Homo sapiens: one gene and its partner. The protein of the gene in region 1 purifies or fractionates together with the protein of each later gene. This does not show direct contact. Each region holds a gene or a part of one and is shown on either strand. Other genes may lie near its edges.

Region 1 (4,578 bases):
AGTGAGACTGTCTCAAAAAAAAAAAAGAAACTTTTCAAGATGTTAATGTCTATTAGAATAACCCAGGAAATCTATCTAGTTTTCTTCAGTGAGAGTTTGTGGAATTATGTTTGACATCAGGGCCATCTTAAACGGTATATCGTAGGAGCAATCTTAAACGGTATATCATAGCCTTAAGGAAATTACCATAGTCTCAGTAGAAATCCTAGGAAGTAGAAAATCCTTGGGGAGAATCTACAGTGTCAGGGTTAGCTCAAATTGCATGTCAAGGGTCAAAAGCAACTCCTAGCATTAGAGACACTGACCAGAATTTATCACATACATTAAAAAGCCACGTCTTCATAGAAACTCCTAGATACTTCTGAAAGGCATTTATTCTAGGTCTCTAACTTCAGACCACACTACTTTTAAGACTTTGGAGGGCCTGGGCAAGCTTATTCACACAATAGCCAATATATTAAAATGTTAAAATGTGCCTGCATCGCCCATTAAATGTCATTTGCATCATAAAAACTTTTGAAATTTGTATTTGAAATTACTCAGCAATCAGTACATACACCTGGAAATTCTTGTAAAATGAGAAAATTGTTTTCAAATGTAATAAAAATTTATATTAATAAAACATTTAATTAACACTAATTTTTCAGTTCTCTTTTCATATTTTAGAGCCAATATAAGCATTTTTTTCAAATCTCAAACATCTTCCTTAGGTGCTTGAAAAGTGAACAGGCCCTAGACCTTGTGCCTATAATATTTCAGGCAGAGAGGCAGAAACTATTCTGGGCAAATGAGAATCTATCCTACAATTAATCTCTAGGAAAAAAAAAAGAGAGAGTTTATAGCACTCTATAACCAATTCCAAGACAGAGCAGCCTTTGATTTATAAAATAATTGCTTATGAATAATATTCAGGAAGCAATTTAATTACACCTGCATAAAGTTGTTTTAAATCATCTGATTTTCACTTAGGAACTAATTTTTCCTACTTCAGGATAGTGTTTTTGAGCAATTGCATAGTGCAGAGGTTAGAAGAGCTTACACAGACAGTATTGCAATGATAGAGTGTCTCCTAAGCTAAAGAATGAAGTTAAAAGCCTATGTGTTTTATCATGGCCCGGCGTGGTGGCTCACTCCTGTAATCCCAGCACTTTGGGAGGCTGAGGCGGGTGGATCACCTGAGGTCAGGAGCTCAAGACCAGCCTGGACAACATGGCAAAACTCTGTCTCTACTAAAAATACAAAAATTAGCCTGGAGTGGCGGTGGCATGTGCCTGCATTCCCAGCTACTGGGGAGGCTGAGGCAGGAGAATTGCTTGAGGCCGGGAGGCGGAGGTTGCAATAAGCTGAGATCACCCCATTGCACTCCAGCCTGGGTGACAGAGCGAGACTCTGTCTCCTCCCCCAAAAAAAGCCTATGTGTTTTATCACCATATTGGGTATGATAGTTAATGGAGGAGAGACTGAACAGCTGACATAGGTCGGTGGCAATGAGCTATGGAGATGATCCTTACAAGGGTAATACATTTCACTGTGGAGAATTTGGAAAACAAGGGCACAACGAATAAAATAAAAATCACCCAAAGATAAGCTCAGAGAGATCAATACTATTTCTTTTCTTTTCCTTTCCTTTCCTTTCCTTTCCTTTCTTTTTCTTTTTCTTTCTCTTTCTCTCTCTCTTTCTCTCTCTCTCTCTCCCTCTCTCTCTCTCTTCTCTTTTTTTCTTTTTCTTTTTCTTTTTTGAGACAGAGTCTCACTCTGTTGCCCAGGCTGGAGAGTGGCCTGATCTTGGCTCATTGCAACCTCCACCTCCCAGGTTTAAGAGATTCTCCTGCCTCAGCCTCCTGAGTAGCTGGGATTACAGGTACCCGCCACCACGCTCGGCTAATTTTTGTATTTTCAGTAGAGACAGGTTTCCCCACATTGACCAGGTTGGTCTCGAACTCCTGACTTCAGGCGATCCACCCGCCTCAGCCTCCCAAAGTGCTGGGGTTGTAGGCGTGAGCCACCGTACCTGGCTTTGTGTGTTTTTCTAAAGTGATTTTAACATCCTGCCTCAACTTCTATCCCCTACTTTCACCTTCCCTTCCTGGGTTCATATTCCTACTAAATTCTTATATTAACAAATAAATTCATGAAGTCTCAGTTTCCCTTCATTGCTTTAATAATCTCCAGTGGATTAGCATAACATGCCATTACAAATATTTTAAAATCCCTTAGCTATCTAGCCAGTCTCTGATTGTTGAAATTTGTTTCTAATTTTCTGGAAATATGGACAGGGCTGAAAGAACGTCCTTGGACATAAAATTTTCATCCATTATCCCCAACTATTTCTTTAGGATAAATCTCTAGCAGTAAATTAACTGGGTGAAAACTTCAGGGCATTGGATATGCAAACAACTCTGCTCTAAAAATGCATCTTCTTGACTACTGGAGCCATTTTTTTTTTCACGAGTTGATTGGTCCTTTGTATTTGTTCTTCGTGAACGTTCAGCCTATGATTTTAAATATTTTCTAATGAGTTCTGCTTTGAGAAGATTTAAAGAGGAGGAGGGCTCAAGAAATCGAGGCCACTTCTGAGTTGCTCACAGTCAAGTAACGGAATCTGACTTGATCTCACCTCAGATCCCCTCTCGGGCCTCAGTTTTGTCACCTGTTGAATGGGAGGTGGCGGGATGCTTACGAAACCCACCCCAAGCCCCGTCTAACCCTGCGGGCGCGAGGCAGAAACTAACAACGCCCAGCAAGGTGTTGCCTCACTGACCCAAGCAGTCTGCGCCCACGTGGCACCTTCTCCTTTCCCAGGTTTTCCTCAGGCCTCTGCCTTGGGCCTCCCCACCCCACGGGGTTACCTTTACCTGCCGGGAGATCCCGCCGAGTAGCTAGCTGCTCCGCAAACCCAGCAGACGAACCCCCAGTCCCTTGTTGTGCCTCGTTGCTAGGCGACGCCACGCCGCGCCGCGCCTGCGCCCTGGGAACGCTCGGGGCTGCTAGGGCGCCCATTGTCCCGCCGAGGGCAGCGGCCAGTGCGGGAGGAGCCAAGTGCGTCCGCGATTACCTGAATCCAGTGCTTTAGGGGAGAATGGAAACTGGGGGTGGAAGCTGTAAATCAAGAGGCAGTTCAGCCTCAGTTTCTGGCCCAAGGACTGGCTGTGGGTTCAAATACGCAAATACTATTGCATTCTTCCAAATAGAGGCGTCAGCCGGAATCTCTATGCAGATGAAACCCACATCAGCCACCTCCTGCCCAGGCTCCGTTAAGCTGCAGACCTGCACTGCCACATCTCTTTGCACTAGGATGTCCAATCCGTTTCCACAGAACTTCTCATGGCCCTTCAAAGCCCCGTTCTCTTCCTCTTTCTTTCCTCTTCCTGCCATTCTTCCAATTGCCTAGACTCAGAAGGAGCTTCAATTTCCCTTCTTCCTCCCATGCCCCCCAACCACAGTCATCACTTCAGCCACTTCTTGGCGGCTTACATTTTGTTTCCTGCTTGTTCCCTTTCTCATATCCTTATTGTCACTTCAATCCAGCTCGTCATTTTTTGGCCTTCTGGCTGAGAAATTCAGTTGCTCTCTGCTTACAGTTCTTTCTACGTATCACAGGCAAATCGGCCATCCAGAAATCATCGTTCCAGTCTTGTCACTTCCCTACTCAAATGTCAGCGGCTTCCTAAGATAAATTTTCAACACATTGGCCTGGAATTTAAGACCGTCTGCTCCATCTCTACTCCATCTGTGCAACCACATTTTCAACCGATCTCCACCATCCAAGCTCCAGCCAAACTTACTGTTCCCGAAATTTTCCACACTTTTCTCTAGATTTTCTTGCTTATCTGTTCATCACTTCATTTTTCAACAAATATTTATAAAGTAGCTTCTATTTCCCAGGTCATGTGCAATACCTGAAATATTCTCTCATTTCCACTTAATTAAGCCCAGCTCAAATGCCATCTTCATAAAATATTTTTTGATTGCCTTTAGCAAAAAGTCTCTCCCTCTCCTCTTAGACTTTGCAAATTCCGTCTCCTACCGGCCCCTGTTGGTCTCCCAGTCCTAAGAATGATAGATGCTTCTTATAATTGCTACTTTTATATATCTTATGTTCTCTTCTCACCATTTAAATTGCCTGATAAACAGCTTTATAACAATTATTTGTATTCAGTTTTCCATGGTCAAATATCCGGTGTGACTTCTGTATAGAAAAGATCTTAAGTAATGGTCATGAAAGTAGGAAAAGGATTAAGACCAAGTAGCATCAAGGAAACTAAGGAGGGAGTTTCAAGAATATAAGCGTCATCAAGTGTTATATGATTGGACCTTGAATAATATACACCTGTATTTTCAGCCTCTCCCTGTCTTCCACGTTTTTTCCTGTTGGTATATAATTATGTTGAAGCCCCTCCCATGCCTCATCTAAAAAGCAAAAACAAATAAAATCCCTTTGATGTTGTTGTTCCTTCTAACTATTATCCTATTGTTTTCTTTCTCTTCTTGGTCATGACTTTTCAAAAAAAGTAGCCAGCATTAGATACTTACATATTTTTAACTTCCTATTCACTCTTCAGACTATAGTGACCTGTT
Region 2 (3,814 bases), 7.8 Mb from region 1:
GTTTTAGTCCTACCATGTTGGGAAGCTCTGCAGAGAAGGACTTGGAAAACTCTTCTTGGTGGAAATCACTAGAAATTGTGATGGCCTGAACTACGCTGCTAGCAGTTTAGATGGGGAGAAGTAACCAGCCTTGAAATTATTTTTAGGTTTTGCTGGGAGGGGCAGAGGTCACCGCAGCCCTTTCCTCTCCCAGTTTGTGGAAATGCAGTAAAAAGAACACACCTCCCAAGGCTGTTGAATGAAACCTACATTGCTTATGACAGTGTGTAAGATAAGGCTGCATTGTAGGCCTTGAGACTCGGAATCACTGTTGTTTTGTAATGTCATCTTTGTCACTGGATGACAAAGGATTTCTCCTTTCATTTAATTGGCAAAATAGGCCAGCTGTGGTGGCTCACACCTACAATCCCAGCACTTTGGGAGGCTGAGGTGGGAGGATCACTTGAACCCAGGAGTTTGAGATCAGCTTGGGCAACATAATGAGACTCCGTCTCTACAAAAAAAATTTACAATTAGCCGGGCACTGTGTTGTACAACTCTAGTCCCAGCTACCTGGGAGGCTGAGGAGAGAGGATCGCTTGAGCCCAGGAGTTGAAGGCTTCAGTGAGCCATGATTGCACCACTGCACTCCAGCCTTGGCGACAGAGTGAGACCCCGTCTCAAAAGAAAAAAGAAAAGAAAAATAATTGGTGAAACAGCAATGATTTCACACCACTGCCTAGCTTTCCTGTTTCAGTCCAGAGGCGCTTGATATAACAGCATCTTTTTAAAGATTATCTGAAACCCGAGGGCCCTAAGTCAGATTTTGCTTATGTCACTGACCACTTTGGATGGTTAGAATACTTTGTCATTTAATATTCTCGCTTTTTGCCTTTCTTTTTTCTCTTTCTCTCCCTGTTCAGATGAAGTCATAACATCTCATGGTGCAATTGAACCAGATAAAGACAACGTACGCCAAGAACCGTATTCTTTGCCACAGGGTTTTATGTGGGACACTTTAGACTTGAGTGATGCCGAAGTGGTGAGTGAGTAAAAACCTCTTAAATTCAACTCCTGCATTCACACATTGCTTCTAAGTTGATTCTGAGCACCATGGATAGGACACTTGTTTTATCTTATAGCTCAAGGAGTTATACACGTTGTTAAATGAGAATTACGTAGAAGATGATGACAATATGTTCCGATTTGACTATTCACCCGAGTTCCTGTTGTGGTAAGTCTCATCGATCACAGATGTCGTGGATAGGCGCTGCTGACTTGGGGACTCCTGCGTCTGTTCCTGTGTTCTTGGACAATAACTGGTGCCTGTTTTCTTGTCTACCGTGACCTCAGGGCTCTGCGTCCACCAGGCTGGCTCCTGCAGTGGCACTGTGGGGTCAGAGTGTCTTCAAATAAAAAACTGGTCGGGTTCATAAGTGCCATCCCAGCAAACATTCGGATTTATGACAGGTACATGTTTAAGCTCGTCCATGCGGTTTTTATATGTTTATTTTCTAAGAATTACAATTAGATTAGGCCTTTAAAAGTTACTGAATGCAGGCCAAGCGCAGTGGCTCACACCTCTAATCCCAGCACTTTGGGAGGCTGAGGCAGATAGATCACCTGAGCTCAGGAGTTTAAGACCAGCCTGGTCAACATGGGTGAAACCCCATCTCTACTAAAAATACAAAATTAGTTGGGCGTGGTGGTAGGCACCTGTAATCCCACCTACTCAGGAGGCTGAGGCAGGAGAATTGCTTGAACCCAGGAGGCGGAGGTTGCAGTGAGCCGAGATTGCGCCACTGCACTCCATCCTGGGCAACATGAGCGAAACTCCATCTCAAAAAAAATAAAAATAAAAATAAAAATGACTGAATGCAAGCTGTCCGGTGATCAGGGAGGTTGTGTATGTGTGGAGGCAGAGGCTTTATGGAAACTCTCTGATTGGTTTTGCTGTGAACCTAAAACTGTTTTAAAATATAAATTTATTAAGTAGTAAAGAAAAAAAAACGGACTGTGAATAAAAATAAAGGACAATGGTTTCTTTTTCTCTTTTTCTCTCTCTGCCTCTCAATCTCATACATGCTCACACATATATGTATCAGAAAAAACGAAGCCTTGGCCAGGCACAGTGGCTCACACCTGTAATTCCAGGACTTTGGTCGGGGCCGAGGCTGGCAGATCACTTGAGGTCAGGAGTTCGAGACCAGCCTGGCCAACATGGCGAAACCCCATCTCTACTAAAAATACAAAAATTAGCCAGCATAGTGGCACGTGCCTGTAATCCTAGCTATTTGGGAGGCTGAGGCACGAGAATCACTTGAACCCAGGAGGAAGAGATTGCAGTGAGCCAAGATTATACCACTGCACTCCAGCATGGGTGACAGAGCAAGACTTCATCTCAAAAAAAAAAAATTACTTAAAAATTTTTTAGGAGAGATAAAGCTTTCTCTCCATAGGATACATTGCACTTTTAGTTTGGATCTCCAGCCCGGAAAGTCAAAGATCCAGCTATGAAAGTCAAAGATGTCATATATAATTGGTCTCTTTACTTGTCAGTGTATTAGGTTAGCTTATTTACTGTGAAAAGCATTTGATCTCAAGGAATATTTTGTGCCAAATGAAGTGTGTACCTGGAAACAGAACCAGGAACAGGATTTGAAGATCTAGGAGGTTTACTGTAGTTCAGAGCGCACCAGCTCTGGTCTGCTCAAAGCCCCTCTCAGGGGTCCCAGGGGTTTGTATCACACTCCAAAGCAACATCTTATCAGATTCTGCACCAGGATGACTCAGTTATTACCATAATTTAGGAAAAACAGATCTAGAAACTTAAAGACGGGCAGGTCGTAGTGATTCATGCTTGTAATCCTAGCACTGGGAGGCTGAGATGGGAGGATTGCTTGAGGCCAGGAGGTCGAGACCAGCCTGGTCAACATAGCGAGACCTCATCTCAAAAAAGGAAAAAAAAAAAAAAGGAAAGAAACGTAAAGAGCCATAGCTGATCCATTTTCTAAACTGAAAACGTATAATGGACCAAAGTCCCAAAATGTATTTAGAACAAGAGGGTTGGAGCCTCCGTGCGTTTTACAATCATTTTGGCAGGGAGATATGGGGAATAGTGTTTCCGTCTGAATTTGTGAAATGTCTAAGTGATAGAATATTTTTGTTAAATATTGTGTTAAAGAATGGCTTTCAGGCCAGGTGCGGTGGGTGGTTCACGCCTATAATCCCAGCACTTTGGGAGATCGAGGCAGGTAGATCATGAGGTCAGGAATGCGAGACCAGCGTAGCCAACATGGTGAAACCCTGTCTTTACTAAAAATACAAAAATGAGCTGGGCATGGTGGCGTGCACCTGTAATTCCAGCTACTTAGGAGGCTGACGCAGGAGAATCGTTTGAACCCAGGAGTAAGAGGTTACAGTGAGCCAAGATTGCGCCATTGCACTCCAGCCTGGGTGACAGTGCGACAATCTGTCTCAAAAAAAAAAAAAAAAAAAAAGAAAGAAAGAAGAAAATAGAATGGCCTTTATGTTCTTTTTTTTCTTTTTCTTTCTTTTCTTTTTTTTTTTTTTTTTTTTTTTTGAGACAGGGCCTTGCTCTGTTGTCCAGGCTGGAGGGCAGTGATGCAATCATGGCTCACTGCACCCTCTGCCTCTCAGGCTCAAGTGATCCTTCCACCTCAGCCTCCCAAGTAGCTGGGACCACATGCATGCGGCAACATGACTGGCTGGTGTTTGTTTTTTGTAGAGATGAGAGTCTCAGTGTTGCCCAGGCTGGTCTGGAACTCCTGGTCTCAAGCAATCCACCTGCCTTGGCCTCCCAAAGTGCTGAGAT

What was found.
Region 2: the proteins of ARMC3 (region 1) and NMT2 purify together in Homo sapiens (affinity purification with mass spectrometry; one large-scale study listed by BioGRID and IntAct). This does not show direct contact.

Annotation. Positions count from the first base shown.
Region 1 is NC_000010.11:22,926,384-22,930,961, reverse strand, and holds the start of ARMC3 (armadillo repeat-containing protein 3), read right to left. Parts: upstream 2,910-4,578; 5' UTR 2,856-2,909; intron 1-2,855. UniProt on the Homo sapiens protein: Essential for male fertility and sperm motility. During spermatogenesis, promotes the autophagic degradation of excessive ribosomes, providing energy resources for mitochondria and thus ensuring sperm flagellar motility.
Region 2 is NC_000010.11:15,130,452-15,134,265, reverse strand, and holds part of NMT2 (glycylpeptide N-tetradecanoyltransferase 2), read left to right. Parts: intron 1-902; coding exon 903-1,021; intron 1,022-1,121; coding exon 1,122-1,213; intron 1,214-1,332; coding exon 1,333-1,449; intron 1,450-3,814.